5 linked regions of the Homo sapiens genome follow. The gene in region 5 interacts genetically with the main gene of each other region. Each region holds a gene or a part of one and is shown on either strand. Other genes may lie near its edges. The genes, in order: EGFR, PTP4A3, FASN, HAPSTR1 and ARNT.

Region 1 (3,524 bases), on a different chromosome or scaffold from region 5:
ACAGTGCCTGGCTGATGGGTCCTGTCTGGCATTTGTCACGTTGTTTTAAGGTTAGCATCTATGAGTCCATTTCCTTTGCTAAATTGTGAATTTCTTAGAATCAGGGACTATGTTTTATTTATCTTTGTATCTTTCATACCCATACCAGGCTAGTATAGATGCTTAGGGGTATTTGAGAGCATAATAGAGTGGAAATGAATATAGTTTTATTTTCATTGAGACAAAAATCAAATACTTTCTTAACAATGCTGTAGGGGCTCTGACTGATCTGGGAGTCAAAAATTACTTTAAAAGCAAAAGGAACATTTTGTATGTGTGTGTGACTGAACATAACTGTAGGCTGAAAATATTTTCTGAACCATTTCTTCCTTGATAAATTGGATGGGGTGGATATTGACTAGGAGAGTTTAAAACACTGTTTACAAAGGACTGCTGTTAACCAGTCAGGTTACAGGGCACACACAGATTAGGAAAAAAGGTGGGCTCCTAACTAGCTGAATCTTCCAATCTTCCAATTGTAGAGAAATTATTTTAGGAAGGAACTTTTTTCCTTCTAAAACATCTGCAAATGTTGTGAAAGCATTATCAATTTCAAACCCTAGTTTCATATTTACTACCTGAATTCCACACTACTCATAATGCTACTGTCATTCGCACCTGTAAAATGCCCTGTTGTGGCCAGAGCTGTAAGTGCTTGAATAGATGACTCAAGGCAGAGACACTTTTTGTGTGACAAAGCGTAAGGAGGGGGTTTGGGGGCAGCTGACCTGGAGGGAACATATACTCTTTGAGTAAAAAGCTTTTGAAGTGAAGTAAAAGGAGAAAACTATCTTCCATAAGTAACACAAACTAATTTTGGGGGGTTGGGGTGATGGCTAAAGGAGATTTCAGAGCAGCTTCATTTTTGTAGTCTTCTGATCTATGCCCCAAAGGACCTGATGCATTTCATCTGAGCCTCAAATTAGGAGATACGTTTTTGCGAGAACAAAAGCGGTGCTATCCTTAGGTATTCCACATTCTCAGCTGTGGGCTATTGGTCCAAATGCTGATGAATCCAATGTGGGCTGGAATCCGAGTTATTATTTGATGTGTCATCCTCTCTTGCTGATTTCATGACAGCAAGACAGGGGCAGCATACTGAGTTTCAAAACAATGGAATGGAAGACAAACAAGTCAGTCTAACGCTCATGACTGGAAACCACTGGTCCATCAGTGGGGAGTAAGTACCGTGGGGACATTTTTACAAAAGTAAGTCTAAGGAAGAATTCCATCCCCTCCGTTTCTTCTTTGCCCAGGAAGGGACAGAGTGGCTTATCCTACTGTACCTGCCATGACTTGATACAGTACCGATCCGGCCTGCTGGGGCCATGAAGGCCTTCTTGGATCTTTAGTGTTTTGCAGTGGAAGCCTTGAAGCAGAACCACTGGAATCAAGCATCCTCTGGAAGACTTGTGGCTTGTGCTCCTTGCTCACAGTTGGGCCTGGATGAACTCAGGGTAGCAAGTGCTACCAGCAAGCTTCTTCCTTGTTGGAAGAGCCCATTGAAGTAAAAATCAATAGCGACAATGAAAAACTCCAAGATCCCCAATCAATAAAAATCCTCACATATACTTTTTTTTTTTTTCAAATATACCTCTTTGAAAGATAAATTTCTGCTCAAAGGGACAATATTCTTGCTGGATGCGTTTCTGTAAATGCTTCACAGTTTGAAGACAAAGGAATGCAACTTCCCAAAATGTGCCCGAGGTGGAAGTACTTCCTGGCTAGTCGGTGTAAACGTTGCAAAACCAGTCTGTGGGTCTAAGAGCTAATGCGGGCATGGCTGTTGGGATGGAGGACCTGCTGTGGCTTGGTCCTGGGTATCGAAAGAGTCTGGATTTTTAGGGCTCATACTATCCTCCGTGGTCATGCTCCAATAAATTCACTGCTTTGTGGCGCGACCCTTAGGTATTCTGCATTTTCAGCTGTGGAGCCCTTAAAGATGCCATTTGGCTTGGCTTCCTTGGGAAAGAAGTCCTGCTGGTAGTCAGGGTTGTCCAGGCTAATTTGGTGGCTGCCTTTCTGGGCCCAGTGGGCAGGGCTGTCGAATGTGCTGTTGACACAGGTGGGCTGGACAGTGTTGAGATACTCGGGGTTGCCCACTGCAGTGCTGTGGGGGTCCTGGTAGTGTGGGTCTCTGCTGGGCGCGGGGTTCAGAGGCTGATTGTGATAGACAGGATTCTGCACAGAGCCAGCGGGCCTTTTGGGAACGGACTGGTTTATGTATTCTGAAAGTGGAAAGAAATCAGAGGTGAAGTAATCAGCAAAGCACCATCCCATGCAGGATCCCTGGGTTCTGAACCCTGTGAATGTCCTCAACAAGGAGACTTATGACAGGGAGCAGGAGCCTCGGGAGGGCCCTCTTGCTGTTGCTGCAAAAGAAAGTGGGTTCTTTCCTGTCCTTCTCAAAGTAATGGACATATGTGTCTTTTGTAAATTTAAAGTTCTCAGAGGATAAACTGCCTTGAGGAGAGTGTGTGTATGTGTGTGTGTATGTGTATGCATGTATACATATATGTGTGATGTGTATGTGGTATGTGTGTCTGGTGTGTGTATATGTGTGTGTATGTGCACCGTGTGTGTGGTGTATGTGTGTGTGGTGTATATTTGTATGTGTGTGTGGTGTGTGCATGTGGGTGTGTGTGGTGTGTGTGTACGTGTGTGTATATGTGGTGTGTGTATACGTGTGTATGTATGGTGTGTGTGGTGTGTATGTGTCTATTGTGTATGTATGTGTGGTATGAGTTGTGTGTGTGTGGTGTGGGTGTGTATGTGGTGTGTCTATGTGTGTCTGTGGTGTGTGTGGTGTGTGTACGTGTGTGTGGTGTGTGTATGTGTATGTATGTGTGGTGTGTGTCTGTGGTGTGTGTGTGGTGTGTGTACGTGTGTGTATGTGTGGTGTGTGTGTGGTGTGTATGTGTGTGGTGTGTATGTGTGTGTGTATATATGCGTATGTGTGGGGTGTATATGTTTGTGTGTGTGTGGGGTTTTTGTGGTGTGTGTGTGGTGTGTGTATTTGTGTGTGTTGTGTGTATATGTGGTGTGTGTGTACATGTGTACATATGGTGTGTGGTGTGTATATGTCTATATGTTTATGCATGTGTGGTGTCTGTGTGGTGTTGGTGTGTATGTGTGCATACATATGTGTATGTGGTGTGTATGTGTGTGTGTGGCGTGTGTACATGTGTGGTGTGTGGATGTGTATGTATGTGTGGTGTGTGTGTGGTGTGTATGTGTGTGTGGTGTGTGTGTACGTTTGTGTATATGTGGTGTGTGTGTACATGTGTATGGTGTGTGTCGTGTGTGTCTGTGTGTATGTGTGTGTGTAGTTGGTGTGTGTAGTTGGTGTGTAAAGAGGTATATCATCTGCCTTAACTTGCATTTTTCTAATAGCTTATAATATTGATAATCTGTTTATATTATATTAGATAGCCAATAAACTATATATTAGATATTACACTAACATATATATAACTTACATATGT
Region 2 (3,500 bases), on a different chromosome or scaffold from region 5:
ACGGGTGCTTCCTTCCACCCAGGAGCCTGAGCAGAGGGTGGAGGGTCCTGGCAGCTACCTACGGCAGCTGAGAGCTGCGCTCTTTAGCCGAGCGGGATCAGGGCTACGTGGACACAGCCCGTGCCAGTGTGGGTGGGGCACGAGCTGTGGGTTCCGATGGCCCAGTAGGCGTTCACCTGGCAGAGAGTGTGCGCGTGTCTCCCCTCCTTGGGGCGCCTCAGGTCAGGACCCTGAGAACCTCACTTATCCTTTGAGCTGCGCCAAGGCTGTTGTACAAAAGACAGTTCAGAAAATAAGGACAGGCTGTTCCTCCCAGCCAAGGGTGTGGCCCTAAGGACCCCTAGGTGGGGCATCGCTTCCCGCCAGGCACGTGCCACTCAGTCTTGGGCTGCTTTAGTGGCAGCCTCCTGGTTTGGAAGCGGAACTGAGGGTCAGGGATGACCACATGGCTCAGGGCTCAGCTGGGGTCCTGAGAGTGGGCCCTCAGGTTTACCTTCCTCCTGGAGGGGAACTGGGGGCCATTGCCCAGTGCACCCCCACTTCCCCTTAGGTGCGTGGGCCACCCCTCCCTCCTGCAGCCCCCGTTCATCTACCCAGGATAGGTGCATGGGCCACCCCTCCCTCCTGCAGCCCCCGTTCATCTACCTGGGGAAGGTGCGTGGGCCACCCCTCCCTCCTGCAGCCCCCGTTCATCTACCCGGGGTAGGTGCGTGGGCCACCCCTCCCTCCTGCAGCCCCCGTTCATCTACCCAGTGGGGATGTCCCCTGGCTCCTCTCCTGGCATCTTCCCGGGATGTAGGGGTGCTCCCATGCCCCCCGGCTCCTCTCCTGGTGTCTTCCCCAGATGTAGGGGTGCCCTCATGTCAGGGCTTATGCTTCTAGAAGGAGTGGAAATGCAGCACAGTCATTGCTGTTGCCTGCCAAGGGCCACCCTGGCTGGGGACAGATGGGGCTGCCTCCCCTCTCCCACCCTGTCCTGGCCACCTGCCCCCGCCAACCCTGCCACTGGCTCAGAGGAAGCAGGCCTAACCTGATGTGTAACCCCCACCCCTGCCGTGACTGTAACCCCGTGCCATGTGAAGGTGGGGCTCCTTGGCAGTGCCTGGTGATTGCGGTACAGCCAGAACCGGCCCCATTATCTGGGCTGTGGGTGCCATTGGTCAGGACCGTGATGGACTCATACGTAAAACTTGATGCATTTTAACTCCCTTCATCCTAGAGGATTGAGACCTCTGGCGGGTAAGTGTTCATATTACCGTCCTGCCCTAGAGCCAGGGAAGGACCCTAGGGGAGAAGTGACGTGCCAGGGTCACTGCTGGGAGGAGAGCAGGAATTTGAACGCTGGCCATGCCTCCTTTTTGGGGAAAGGTCAGTAAATGGGCAGGGGAGGGTGCTGGTCATTTGGGTGATGGTGCCAGTGGGGTGAGCAGCTCCAGGTCATCAGGTGGTATGGAATCTGGCCCCGGGCAGCCCGTCCAGCATTCCTCTCTCACCGAGCCCACAGCCCTGGAGCACCTACTGTGTGCCTGCTCTGGCCCACTGGGAACAGGACAGTCCCGAGCCCTGCCCCGAGGAGCTGGCGCCAAGTGGAGCAGCTGCACCACAGGCACACGGGGGACAAAGGGCACCGCTGATGATTTGGCCAGGAAGAGATGAGGTGGGGATGGGGGCTACAGGGTGGGGAGACGGTGGCCTCGGGAAGGGCTAGCTTGGCCACGCCAGCTTGGTCATGTCACCTTCTGAGTCTCAGTGTTCCCTTCTCACGTGGGACAAGACCACGCATAACCCGAGGGGCTGCATGTGTGGAGCCGACAAGCTGACGTGCGGGTCCTGAGTGCACTGAGCCCGCTGGGGTTCCAGACACAGTGGATGAACGATCCAGGGAAGGAAACAGCCTGGGCTGTGCTCTCTGGGACCTGCCCTTGAGCCAGGTACTCCTGTGGGAGGGTAGCCGGGCTGGCTGGGGGCCTGGAGCCCACAGCCTCTCCTCCCTTGCTGTTTTCCCGGCCAGGGAGGAAGCCAGGCTGGAAGACCCCAGAGGGCTAGGGGGATGAACACAGGTTGATCTGTGTTGAATTTGGCTCTAGCCACCTCCTCAGGGCCAGAGCGGCTCCTGGAGCCGGAGTGAGAGCTGTGTTACACGCAGGGAAGCCGGGGCTCGGGGAAGGTGGCTGCCAGGGTGTGCAGGGCTGTGCCAACCTCATCCTGGTGGGTCCCTGTGACAACAGGACAGGCTGCCTGCCCATTGTACAATGAGAGGCTGATGCTCTGTCACTTCATGAGGTCACACAGGCTCCAGGCAGTGGGGGGCTCTCTGAAGGAGGTCCCAGTGACCTGAATGGAGCCCCCGGGTGGGCTGAAACTTCTGCCTGTAAGGCCTGTCCTGGGTTGGGGTTGGGTGGGAGAGGGCAGGAGTCCTGCTGGGAAGGGCCTCTGCCATGCCCAGCTCCTACCACAAGTACAGAACAATGACAACTCCGCCACCTGGCTGCCCCACGCTGGGCACATGCTCCCCGCTGGCCTCAGTTGGGAGTCCAGTGAGTCAGGAGGTGAAGGTGGGGTGCACGTCCCCTGCAGACCCTCACAAGGCAGGTGGCGGGGCGGGTATTGGTCATGAGAACCCTGCCTTGGGGCCTGAGTGCCTCGGTGGCTGTGGAGCCTGGTTTCGACCTCTTTGGGACCAGTGTTCTTGTCCATAAAAGGCAGTGATCTTTCTGGATAGTTCAGAGAGATTCTGTTATCTTTGCCCATCAGAGCTGGAAGGGAGTTGAACAAAATGTTTTGCAGAAATTGGACCTGAGTTGGGCATTGCTCCTCCTGCTGCCCCTGGTTCTGAGGGCTTGGCACCACTAGCCCGCTCTCTGTCCAGGGTCGGCCCGGCTCCTGCCTTTATCATGTGTGAGCCTCGCTGTGTGTGGCTCAGTCCTGGACGGGCCGAGACCTGGATGCAGGACCCTGGACAGTCAGCGCAGGCGGAGCAGGGAGGGAGGCGTCTGCCTGAGGCCTGCTTGGAGGTGCCCAGGCTGGAGCCCTTGGCCCTGGAAGATGTGGTCAGGGCCCAGTGGTGTTGGGATGGCCAAGAAGAGGGCCCCTGTGCCTTCTGCCCAGGGCTTGGCCTAGCCAGTGCTCAGGGTTTATTTGCTGGATGAGGGGTGGAGTGGGCCAGTGGGGCCCAGGTCTCCTGCTAGGTGACCCTCAGAGGTGGGCATAACATCCCTTGGAGTCTCTGCTCTGCACTTGCCAATAAGAGGCTGGACCATTTGAGTGGTTATAAGTTGGGAAGCACTCCCTGATTGCTTGGTTCTGCTTGAGGCACAGCCTCCAACTCCCAGAGATTCCAGCACCCCTGCAGGAGCCAGCGTTGCTGATGTGGGCAGACGGGCGTCTGGGAACACCCCAGACTCAGCATACTAGGGTTCAAGTCCCTGACTCCCATCCTGGGGCATGGAGTGGCAGGAACCAGGGAATGTTCTAGAGTGAGGTGGTGAGGTGGAGCAGGG
Region 3 (3,423 bases), on a different chromosome or scaffold from region 5:
GCTGTCCGTGCGCGAGGTGCGGCAACTCACGCTCCGGAAACTGCAGGAGCTGTCCTCAAAGGCGGATGAGGCCAGCGGTGCGTGTGGGTGGCCAGGCGGGAGTGGGGTCCCCGGGCCTCCCCAGCCCTTCCTCCTTGTTGTCTGGACCGTGTCCCGGCAGGCATACCGCCCTTCGTCACGGGTGCCATTCTGAGCGTTCCCACCCCGACTCCCACCTGACGTAGCACCGTGGGGACCTGCGTGCGTGTCTGTGTGTCCTTGCGTGGGTGCCAGGGCTCTGCACCCAGACCAGCCTGGCATCTGCCCCTGTCTTCACAGAGCTGGCATGCCCCACGCCCAAGGAGGATGGTCTGGCCCAGCAGCAGACTCAGCTGAACCTGCGCTCCCTGCTGGTGAACCCGGAGGGCCCCACCCTGATGCGGCTCAACTCCGTGCAGAGCTCGGAGCGGCCCCTGTTCCTGGTGCACCCAATCGAGGGCTCCACCACCGTGTTCCACAGCCTGGCCTCCCGGCTCAGCATCCCCACCTATGGCCTGCAGTGCACCCGAGGTACTCCCGGGCCCTCCTCTGGAAGCGGTGGTCAGTGCTGGCCATCACGGGGCCCGTGGCTGCCGCCTGCACATGCTGAGTGCCCGGCACTGCCATTGCAGCTGCGCCCCTTGACAGCATCCACAGCCTGGCTGCCTACTACATCGACTGCATCAGGCAGGTGCAGCCCGAGGGCCCCTACCGCGTGGCCGGCTACTCCTACGGGGCCTGCGTGGCCTTTGAAATGTGCTCCCAGCTGCAGGCCCAGCAGAGCCCAGCCCCCACCCACAACAGCCTCTTCCTGTTCGACGGCTCGCCCACCTACGTACTGGCCTACACCCAGGTGAGAGCCAGGCTGGTCCTAGAGGCCTACGGCAAACGTCTGGGCTCCCCACCTGTGCCCTGGCTTTGGGGGACCGTCGCTTAGGAGGCCCCGCCCCTTCCATCTGCTCAGCAGTCCCTCCTTCCTCTCAGAGCTACCGGGCAAAGCTGACCCCAGGCTGTGAGGCTGAGGCTGAGACGGAGGCCATATGCTTCTTCGTGCAGCAGTTCACGGACATGGAGCACAACAGGGTGGGTCCTGGACACCCCTGAGGCCGCAGGACCCAGAGTACTGGGCAGGAACGGAAGGGGGAAGGGAAGGATGGGATGGGACGCGAAGAGCGTTAAAGGCCCCCCAACTTCACCCCTTTAATAGCCGATCCCGGCCGGATGCGGTTGCTCATGCCTGTAATCCCGGCACTTTGGGAGGCTAAGGCGGGCAGATTACCTGAGGTCGGGAGTTCGAGACCAGCCTGACCAACGTGGAGAAACCCCTTCTCTACTAAAAATACAAAAATTAGCCAGGCATGGTGGCACTCACCTATAGTCCCACCTACTCGGGAGGAGAATCGCTTGAACCGGGTAGGTGGAGGTTGCGGAGGGAGGAGAATCGCTTGAACCGGGTAGGTGGAGGTTGCGGTGAGCTGAGATCGCCCCACTCCATCTAGCCTGGGTAACAAAAATGAAACTCGTCTCAAAAAAAAAAAGCCCACCCGCAGTGTAGCACAGGGCAGGCCGGTGCTGTGGGTGCTGCCAGCACCTGCTCAGAGCCCGACCCCACAGGTGCTGGAGGCGCTGCTGCCGCTGAAGGGCCTAGAGGAGCGTGTGGCAGCCGCCGTGGACCTGATCATCAAGAGCCACCAGGGCCTGGACCGCCAGGAGCTGAGCTTTGCGGCCCGGTCCTTCTACTACAAGCTGCGTGCCGCTGAGCAGTACACACCCAAGGCCAAGTACCATGGCAACGTGATGCTACTGCGCGCCAAGACGGGTGGCGCCTACGGCGAGGACCTGGGCGCGGACTACAACCTCTCCCAGGTGCGCAAGGGGCCTGACGGGAACGGGGACAGGGACAGGAGTGGGGTGGGACGGCAGCTGATCGCATCCCCTGCAGGTATGCGACGGGAAAGTATCCGTCCACGTCATCGAGGGTGACCACCGCACGCTGCTGGAGGGCAGCGGCCTGGAGTCCATCATCAGCATCATCCACAGCTCCCTGGCTGAGCCACGCGTGAGCGTGCGGGAGGGCTAGGCCCGTGCCCCCGCCTGCCACCGGAGGTCACTCCACCATCCCCACCCCACCCCACCCCACCCCCGCCATGCAACGGGATTGAAGGGTCCTGCCGGTGGGACCCTGTCCGGCCCAGTGCCACTGCCCCCCGAGGCTGCTAGATGTAGGTGTTAGGCATGTCCCACCCACCCGCCGCCTCCCACGGCACCTCGGGGACACCAGAGCTGCCGACTTGGAGACTCCTGGTCTGTGAAGAGCCGGTGGTGCCCGTGCCCGCAGGAACTGGGCTGGGCCTCGTGCGCCCGTGGGGTCTGCGCTTGGTCTTTCTGTGCTTGGATTTGCATATTTATTGCATTGCTGGTAGAGACCCCCAGGCCTGTCCACCCTGCCAAGACTCCTCAGGCAGCGTGTGGGTCCCGCACTCTGCCCCCATTTCCCCGATGTCCCCTGCGGGCGCGGGCAGCCACCCAAGCCTGCTGGCTGCGGCCCCCTCTCGGCCAGGCATTGGCTCAGCCCGCTGAGTGGGGGGTCGTGGGCCAGTCCCCGAGGAGCTGGGCCCCTGCACAGGCACACAGGGCCCGGCCACACCCAGCGGCCCCCCGCACAGCCACCCGTGGGGTGCTGCCCTTATGCCCGGCGCCGGGCACCAACTCCATGTTTGGTGTTTGTCTGTGTTTGTTTTTCAAGAAATGATTCAAATTGCTGCTTGGATTTTGAAATTTACTGTAACTGTCAGTGTACACGTCTGGACCCCGTTTCATTTTTACACCAATTTGGTAAAAATGCTGCTCTCAGCCTCCCACAATTAAACCGCATGTGATCTCCACCACCGTCCTTTCTTCCCTCCTCCCTGACCTGGCAGCTGCAAGCTCTCCAGCTCCACCCCACCCAGTCACGGGGCCGTGAAGGGGATGCCCTCTGTCCTCTGGTCCCCAGTTCCCACACACCCCTAGGCCATGTCCCAGAGCCGGGGCTGGGCCGGGGAGTGAGGAAGGAGCCCGCGTGGCAGCCCCGGGCTTCCCGGGAAAGCGCTGGGACTGGCGGGGGGGGGGGTACCGAGGCTCTGGCCAAGAAACACCACCAGTGAGAAACGTGTAGGAGGTACAGACACTGGGAAGTTGGCTTCAGCTGAGGAGAGGCCCCTCGTGGAGAATAGTATTTGCTTGAAGTCAGTGGATTGCAGGCATTCGCCCTGCCAAAGATGCCGTCACAGCCTCACCAAGACGGTGTCAATAGCGCCACTGGCTGGCCAGGTTGACCCAGAAGACTTGGGTTTAGGCAAAGGAGTGGAGGCTGGGAGGGAGCAAGGGACAGGGAGCCCTGGGCACCTGGACCCCCGGCATCGA
Region 4 (3,524 bases), on a different chromosome or scaffold from region 5:
CCACCTGTGATTTATTGTTTTCCTGAACTTTGGGAGTTTTAAGCAATGATACAGTTGAAGGGACTGTTTATAATTTTCACATGTTTAAGTTGTGAGGCTTTAAAACTTAAATATAAGGCTTTGTCTAGGAAGAAAATGATCTTTACCTTCAATAAATTTATAATGTAGCACTAATCCAGTATAGATTGGAGACTGAATGCATTCTTACTCTTAGGGTTCATACCTCTAATTCATGTGGTTAAGACAGTGTTGTGGTGAAGTAATAGGGCCCCTTGAAAGAATCTACAGAAACATAAATTATACTGAGTTGTGCTGTACTGGTTTGTGAGAACATCAGTGTATTAAGGAGAATGGTAGTTTAATTTGAATATTTAAAGAAAGTAATTTGAATGGTTCTAGTACTAGGGCCATTATTAACTAGTAACATAGATTAGTGACTTCAACTGGGTGTCCTTATTATCTGATTTGTCTGAAGTGAAAACTGTTAAGGTGCTCTTTTAAAATGTATTTGGAAACACCATAGTTAGGGTAAATACAATGTCACAATTCACTCTTGCATATTATTTGCTTAGCCAAATTTATGAATTCTAAGTTAGGCCAAATTGAAGGTTTTGGAGTTTTACATTGTGGGTGAGTCTAAATTCATGCGTTTGGCAAGCACAAGGACATGGGAAAAGAATCTGGTATTTTGAGGCAGGCTTGAGTTTATAATGAAAGCAAACTCAGTTCCTCTTCATGTCCTATGTATTTAAGAGAGGACAGTTTTCCCTCAGTTTTTTTCCCCTTCCTTACCCCTACCCCCATCAAATACAGCCCAACCAAATAACTGTGTTCTTAATTTAAAGGAAAATGGCAGACTTGACACCTGCTGAATATTTCGTGTAGACAGAGTATGACAATGAATGAGATCCCCAGTCATTGCCCTTGTAAGCCTGGGAACCCAGTTTAGTGGGAGAGACTAATGTAAACAGCTTTAATCAAAAGTATATCAATTGGCCGGGTGCTGTGGCTCACACCTATAATGCCGGCACTTTGGGAGGCCAAGGTGGGTGGATCACTTGAGGTCAGGAGTTTGAGACCACCCTGGCCAACATGGTGAAACCCTCTCCCTATTTAAAGAAAAAAAAGTAAGGCATATCAATTTATGGTTATCAAATAGGTTTTTTTTTTTTTTTTTGAGACTGAGTGTCGCTCTATAGCCCAGGCTGGAGTGTAGTGCTCACTGCGACTTCCGCCTCCTGGGTTCAAATGATTCTCGTGCCTCAGTCTCCCGAGTAGCTGGGATTGTAGGCGCCTGCCACCACGCCCAGCTAATTTTTGTATTTGTAGTAGAGATGGGGTTTCATCATGTTGGCGAAGCTGGTCTTGAACACCTGACCTCAAGTGATCTGCCTTAGCCTCACTGCTTGCCCCTAAGTGGTGGGATTGCAGGTGTGAGCCACTGTGCTGGCCTCAAATAGTTTTTATCAAAGCTACTTCAATTAGTGGTTAGCAAGGCTTAAAGACTAATTCAGTGCTTTATTTTGACACTTGTTCGCAACATGTTGCTTTTTTTCCTGTGTCCTATGGGACCTAGTCATCTGTATGTTAGATTCACAGAGGAATTAAAGAGATAAACATGCATGTGCTAAATTGATTTCTGTCTTGCTTTGTTATCCTATAATAATGTTATAAAATAACATTATTATAAATTTCCCAAGAGTTGAATTAATACCAACAACTGGTAACTCGTTTTTATGTAAACAGCATACTTGAGACCAGAAATCTTCTGGATCACTTTGTGGATCTCTGCCTGCCATTCTCATTGGTCCTCTGTTCATCCCTTTTCTAGAGCTTCTCCTTACCTTGGCTTCTCTTCTGCCACATTGGCCTGCCTGACCTGTCCTCAGGCCCTGTCACTGCCCTAGATTACGTTTCCCATGTCTTCACTTCCAAATCTGGACCTCTCGTTTAGACCTTCTCTCCTGACTGCCAGATGGCATGTCCCACTGTCCTCCGGTGTACATCTCCAAATTGTCCCACAGGCATTTATCTCAGATGAAGTTTCAGGTTGGACTCATTCTTCTGCCCCAACAGCAGAATGACTCATTGAGCCATTGAGCCATTCAGCACATTCTCTATATGGCAGATTCGGTGCTGTCTCTGGAAATACATAAACATAGAGCGATTCCTTTTTCTGTTGAGGCAAAATATGGATTTGGTTAATTTCTATTCACGTCATGAATGTGGTATGTGGAAGGTCTTCTGAGAGCAGAAAGGGATGTTTCACAGCACAGCCCGGCTGTGTGGTGCTCAGGGCAGGCCCTCTGGAGGAGGTGAGCCTGGGCTCTTGGCCTAATGTTTCAGCTCTCACTTTCCAGTCCTGAGCTGTTGTTGCCAGTCCATCTTTCATGAGACCATTGGAGTGATCTTTCTGGTCTTGTCACTTCATGGTTTAAAGTTTCCCTGGGCCTACACAGTGAAGTCCAAATTCAGCATGGTATTACAAGACCCTTATGATCCAGTCTTAACCATTGGTTAGGTATCCTACCCATACTGTTTATCTCTTGAATACCTCTATGCTCTTTGACAAGTCCAGCCCCTACGTGTTCATACCTCACTTCTGTGACACAGCCTTGCTTCAGGGCTCCCAATCTCTGTAGCCTCCCTGAACTGTGCATTTGCTCTGCTGCTTGATTTGTTTCTGTGACTGTTCCATTCTCCTCGGGACACATAGCAGGGACCTTGTCTTGGTCCTTTTTTTTTTGGCTTTAACAGAACATAGCAAAGAACCTGACATAGGTGTAGTCTGAGTTTACCACTGGGGTTATCACAGAGGTCTGCTAAGTGAATACAACACAGTGGGGACCCAGAACCTCTAGAAAGGGTTGAGGATTACAATCCCCAGATAGCTACAATCAGGGAATAATGTAACCTGTTTGCCTAGGGTGCTACATGGTAATCTTGAATTAGAACAACTGAGACTTCCATGGGACCTTAGGGTGATAACCATTAAACCTACTCTTTCAGTGTTTACTTTGTAAAAGCATCACACTAAGGAGGTTGTCATTTAATCCTCACACCTACCCTGGGTTATTAACACTGTTGATGAAGAAAGCCTTACTTGGCTAAGATATGGAGCAGGTTAGTAAGTGGTAGAATAGATACTCCAGTCCTGTCTCCAAAATGCAAATTTTTTTTTAATTAAAAAAATTTCTAATTTTCAATATATTTATTTTTGATTTTTTATTTTCTGTAGAGTTGGAGTTTCGCCATGTTGTCCAGGCTGGTCTCGAACTCATGGGTGCAAGCCATACCCCAACCTCGACCTTCCGAAGTGTTGGGAATACTGGCATGAGCCATGATGCCTGGCCTCAAAATGCATACCCTTAACCACTATGCTCTCACATTTTTAGATGTGGGATTTCTGTCTACGACGTCGCCCCCACTAAGACCTAGGGCTTAGGTGTCGAGGTGGGAAAGATCTTGAGGCTTTTCTTCTCAAAATTAATCAGAAACGATGTGAATTTTATATCTCTTTCTGA
Region 5 (3,524 bases):
ATTGGCTGTGTCACAGAATGTGGTTTTTATGTGAACAAATTTATACTGAACATATGTATTCTAAGCATTTGTTGCAAAGAAACTTAGACATTGAATGCAGTTAATTTGAGAAAGATTTCTAAAGTAGGAACAAGACTTTGAGAGAAAAGGGGAAAATGCCTTTATTGTAATAACTTATCAAGAGGATATTCTCTGCAAAGACTTTAAATCAAGCTTTGAGCAGATTAGCTTTACCAGAACTTGAGGTCAAACAAGGAATGTGAGAAAGGTGATTGGGTTGCAGGATCAAAGTTTTAAGTTGGCTTGTCAGAGTTTCCAAATCTTAGCAACTTTATTACTTCCCTGCTGCCTGGGTATTATTGGAAAGTAGGGGTTTTGGGGAGACAGAAACTAAGAGAAAAGAGAAGCAAGGTGATGTGTTTTGGAAAAAGGTTAAACTTTGGATGTGGAGAAACCTGGATGTGATTCCTGTCATTGTTACTTATTAGTGGCATCACCTAGGGTAAGTTGCTTGACCTTTATAAAGCTCAGTTTTCTCATCTGTAATTCAGAGTTAGTACATCCTGTATAGGGTTTTTGTGAGGATTAGATTTAATGTAAGGAAAGCATCCAGCCCAGTGCCTGGCATATGGCAGGTAACCCAATAAAAGTAATTAATGTAATTTAAAAAAATTTAACTGAAGTAGTAATGACATTTGAACTACTTAGTCTATATACTATATAAGCCACACAGTTAAAGTATGTGATCTTTCATACCTCTATGTAGCATCAAGGAATACTATTTTTCTGGATAAAAAGAGTATAACTATGCAAAAAACAGGGGAGAAATGCAGTCTTCTTCCCTTTCTGTGTAAAACATTGGTTTTTCTCTTTTCCAAGGGACATGAATAACTATTGATGGTTGGTATAACTTCATTTTGGGTTGCTTGCTAACTTTAAAAGTTACAGATTAGGCAAAGCATAAATTTTCTGCCTATAACATGGTCATAGAATGGATGTCTTCATATGTGCCATATTTGGCCAGCATAGTTTTTTAGAGTACTCTGGGTAGGACTTGTATTTTCCAGTTTACTATAATTAACATGGGTAAAATGTAGGAATTAATATATATGTAAATACTTAAAACAATGACTGGCATATATGGTAAGTTTTATATACTTGTTTATTCTTATTTATCATTCTCTATTGCTTTATGCTTAGCCTCTTCATAACTAGATGTATTTTGTTTTGTTTTGCTTTTTGGTTTTTTTTTTGAGAGGGAGTCTCACTCTGTCTGTCGCCCAGGCTGGAGTGCAGTAGTGCGATCTCGGCTCACTGCATCCTCCGCCTCCTGGGTTCAAGTGATTCTCTCACCTCAGCCTCCCAAGTAGCTGGGATTACAGGTGCATGCCACCATGCCTGGCTAATTTTTGTATTTTTAGTAGAGATGGGGTTTCACTGTGTCGGCCAGGCTGGTCCTCAAGTGATCCGCCCACCTTGGCTTCCCAAAGTGTTGGGATTACAGGCGTCAGCCACGGTGCCTGGCCCATAAATAGGTCTATTTTGAATCTTTACTTGTCTGAGTTTTGAAGGCATTTGAGTTGGAGGTCCCCGTTAAACCTTTTAACGTCACGTTTCTGAAGGTGTTTCCCTCCCAGATGATGACCCAGAGGCTGGCCAGGGAAGCAAGTTTTGCCTAGTGGCCATTGGCAGATTGCAGGCAAGTATGAATTTTCCACATCTATATTCCCGTTCAATTAGAGCAGATCTTCAGGACTCATTCCTGTTAATTTTCTTTTACTTTCTGAATACAAATGAAGAATTCCATAAAACTCTCAAAATTTGAAGGAATATGGCATTTATAGTGACCATTGCTATTCTTGGATTTAAGTAAAGTTGAAAAGTATGAGAGGAGGGAGATCTTTTTCCCCTTGTCTTAATTTTAGCTTTACTATGCTTAATTTTCTATTTCCAGTTAATTTCCTTTGCCCCTATACAAAAGAAGAAAGATCCTTTTCATTGTATCATTACCTGACTAACAATAGAAAAGTGGAATTATTTTGATTTTTTCATAAGTATAGATAAGTTTCTTGGTTACTTGTACCATATCAACCTGAGTAATGAGTTCAGCATAGCCAGTATGTGGATTTTAGATTGAATAAACTTTATTCTTACTTTACTAACTTGGTAAAGTGTAAATGTATGGGAGCAGAGCTAGACCTTATGCCTTGTCTGATTGTGATTGTCATTTTTTTTTCCTTTTTGGATAAAATGTGAAAGTTTAGAAAGTCCTAAAACTGGGAATCTTATGTCTATGCAAAAGACCATGAGGAGATAGGAAATACATCTGTAAATAATGGTATCATTTTACCTCATTTTTATCTCTTCACTCTCAGGTAACTAGTTCTCCCAACTGTACAGACATGAGTAATGTTTGTCAACCAACAGAGTTCATCTCCCGACACAACATTGAGGGTATCTTCACTTTTGTGGATCACCGCTGTGTGGCTACTGTTGGCTACCAGCCACAGGTGAGGAGCTGGAGCTCCATTAGGCCTCCATTTTCCTTTGGCTATGTTGACATTATGTAATCATGTAGTTCCTAAGACAGCCAAAACATATCAACCTCAGTTAAGAAAAAGAGATCATCATATTCTGTTAGTACCTAACATTATTTTCAGCTTCCTATTAGGACTGTCATCTCATGTAGAGAAATATGGCTTGTCAAACCAGGTGGGAGCAGCAGGTACAAATATGTATTTATTTTTTGTTGTTGATATTAATACAGATGATTCAAAGGTACTCATATTAATTAGTTATACCAGTATAGCTACATTTAGATAATTCATGTAATTACCTAAATGAATAATGGCCCATAAAACATGCAGATTTAGCACCAGTTATTATAATTTACTCATGCAACAGACCAGTTAGCCATCTCTGAATTGACGCATCATATAAACTTTTAAAACTGTTGTGGGTCGGAAGGACTTCTGGCTGTGGCTATGTGAAAGAGGTTGGTGAAAAAGAGGTCTTGAAAACAAAGAACAAAGAGAATTTACACTACCTGATTCAACACTAACTATAAAGCTATTACCAAGACACTGTGGTGTTGGTGTAAGGATAGATATATAGATCAATAGACCAGAATAAGGTCTATTCTTATACTTGTCAACTAATTTTCAGCAAAGGTGACAAGACAATTCAATGGATAAAATAAATATTTCTAACAAATGGAACAATTGGATATCTGTATGCAAAAAAAAAAAAAAACAAAAAAAAAACCACACCCAAAAATGAAAACACATAGATCTTACCTCATACAATTTACAAAAATCAGCTTAGAGGCCTAAATGTGTAAGAGCTAAAGTTACAAATAAACTCCTAGGAGAAAATCTTTGTGATTTTGAGTTAGGCAAAAGATTTCTTACACTAAAAGCATGATTCACAGAAGAAAAAAAATTATAAATTGGATTTAATTGTAATTAAAATTTGCCCTCTTTAAAGGATATTATTAAGAAAATGAAAAGACCAGACATAAATGG

Evidence for each region.
Region 1: changes in ARNT (region 5) and EGFR together harm fitness more than expected from each alone (negative genetic interaction), as found in Homo sapiens cells (one large-scale study listed by BioGRID).
Region 2: changes in ARNT (region 5) and PTP4A3 together harm fitness less than expected from each alone (positive genetic interaction), as found in Homo sapiens cells (one study listed by BioGRID).
Region 3: changes in ARNT (region 5) and FASN together harm fitness less than expected from each alone (positive genetic interaction), as found in Homo sapiens cells (one large-scale study listed by BioGRID).
Region 4: changes in ARNT (region 5) and HAPSTR1 together harm fitness less than expected from each alone (positive genetic interaction), as found in Homo sapiens cells (one large-scale study listed by BioGRID).

Annotation. Positions count from the first base shown.
Region 1 is NC_000007.14:55,203,999-55,207,522, reverse strand, and holds part of EGFR (epidermal growth factor receptor isoform a precursor), read right to left. Parts: intron 2,268-3,524; coding exon 1,906-2,267; 3' UTR 1-1,905. UniProt on the Homo sapiens protein: Receptor tyrosine kinase binding ligands of the EGF family and activating several signaling cascades to convert extracellular cues into appropriate cellular responses.
Region 2 is NC_000008.11:141,395,021-141,398,520, forward strand, and holds part of PTP4A3 (protein tyrosine phosphatase type IVA 3), read left to right. Parts: intron 1-3,500. UniProt on the Homo sapiens protein: Protein tyrosine phosphatase which stimulates progression from G1 into S phase during mitosis. Enhances cell proliferation, cell motility and invasive activity, and promotes cancer metastasis.
Region 3 is NC_000017.11:82,077,818-82,081,240, reverse strand, and holds the end of FASN (fatty acid synthase), read left to right. Parts: coding exon 1-77; intron 78-318; coding exon 319-549; intron 550-650; coding exon 651-871; intron 872-1,002; coding exon 1,003-1,101; intron 1,102-1,632; coding exon 1,633-1,884; intron 1,885-1,960; coding exon 1,961-2,098; 3' UTR 2,099-2,903; downstream 2,904-3,423. UniProt on the Homo sapiens protein: Fatty acid synthetase is a multifunctional enzyme that catalyzes the de novo biosynthesis of long-chain saturated fatty acids starting from acetyl-CoA and malonyl-CoA in the presence of NADPH.
Region 4 is NC_000016.10:9,105,133-9,108,656, forward strand, and holds part of HAPSTR1 (HUWE1-associated protein modifying stress responses 1), read left to right. Parts: exon of another isoform or gene 1-1,632; intron 1,633-3,238; coding exon of another isoform or gene 3,239-3,372; exon of another isoform or gene 3,373-3,524. UniProt on the Homo sapiens protein: Acts as a central player within a network of stress response pathways promoting cellular adaptability. The E3 ligase HUWE1 assists HAPSTR1 in controlling stress signaling and in turn, HUWE1 feeds back to promote the degradation of HAPSTR1.
Region 5 is NC_000001.11:150,828,079-150,831,602, reverse strand, and holds part of ARNT (aryl hydrocarbon receptor nuclear translocator), read left to right. Parts: intron 1-1,622; coding exon 1,623-1,699; intron 1,700-2,375; coding exon 2,376-2,510; intron 2,511-3,524. UniProt on the Homo sapiens protein: Required for activity of the AHR. Upon ligand binding, AHR translocates into the nucleus, where it heterodimerizes with ARNT and induces transcription by binding to xenobiotic response elements (XRE).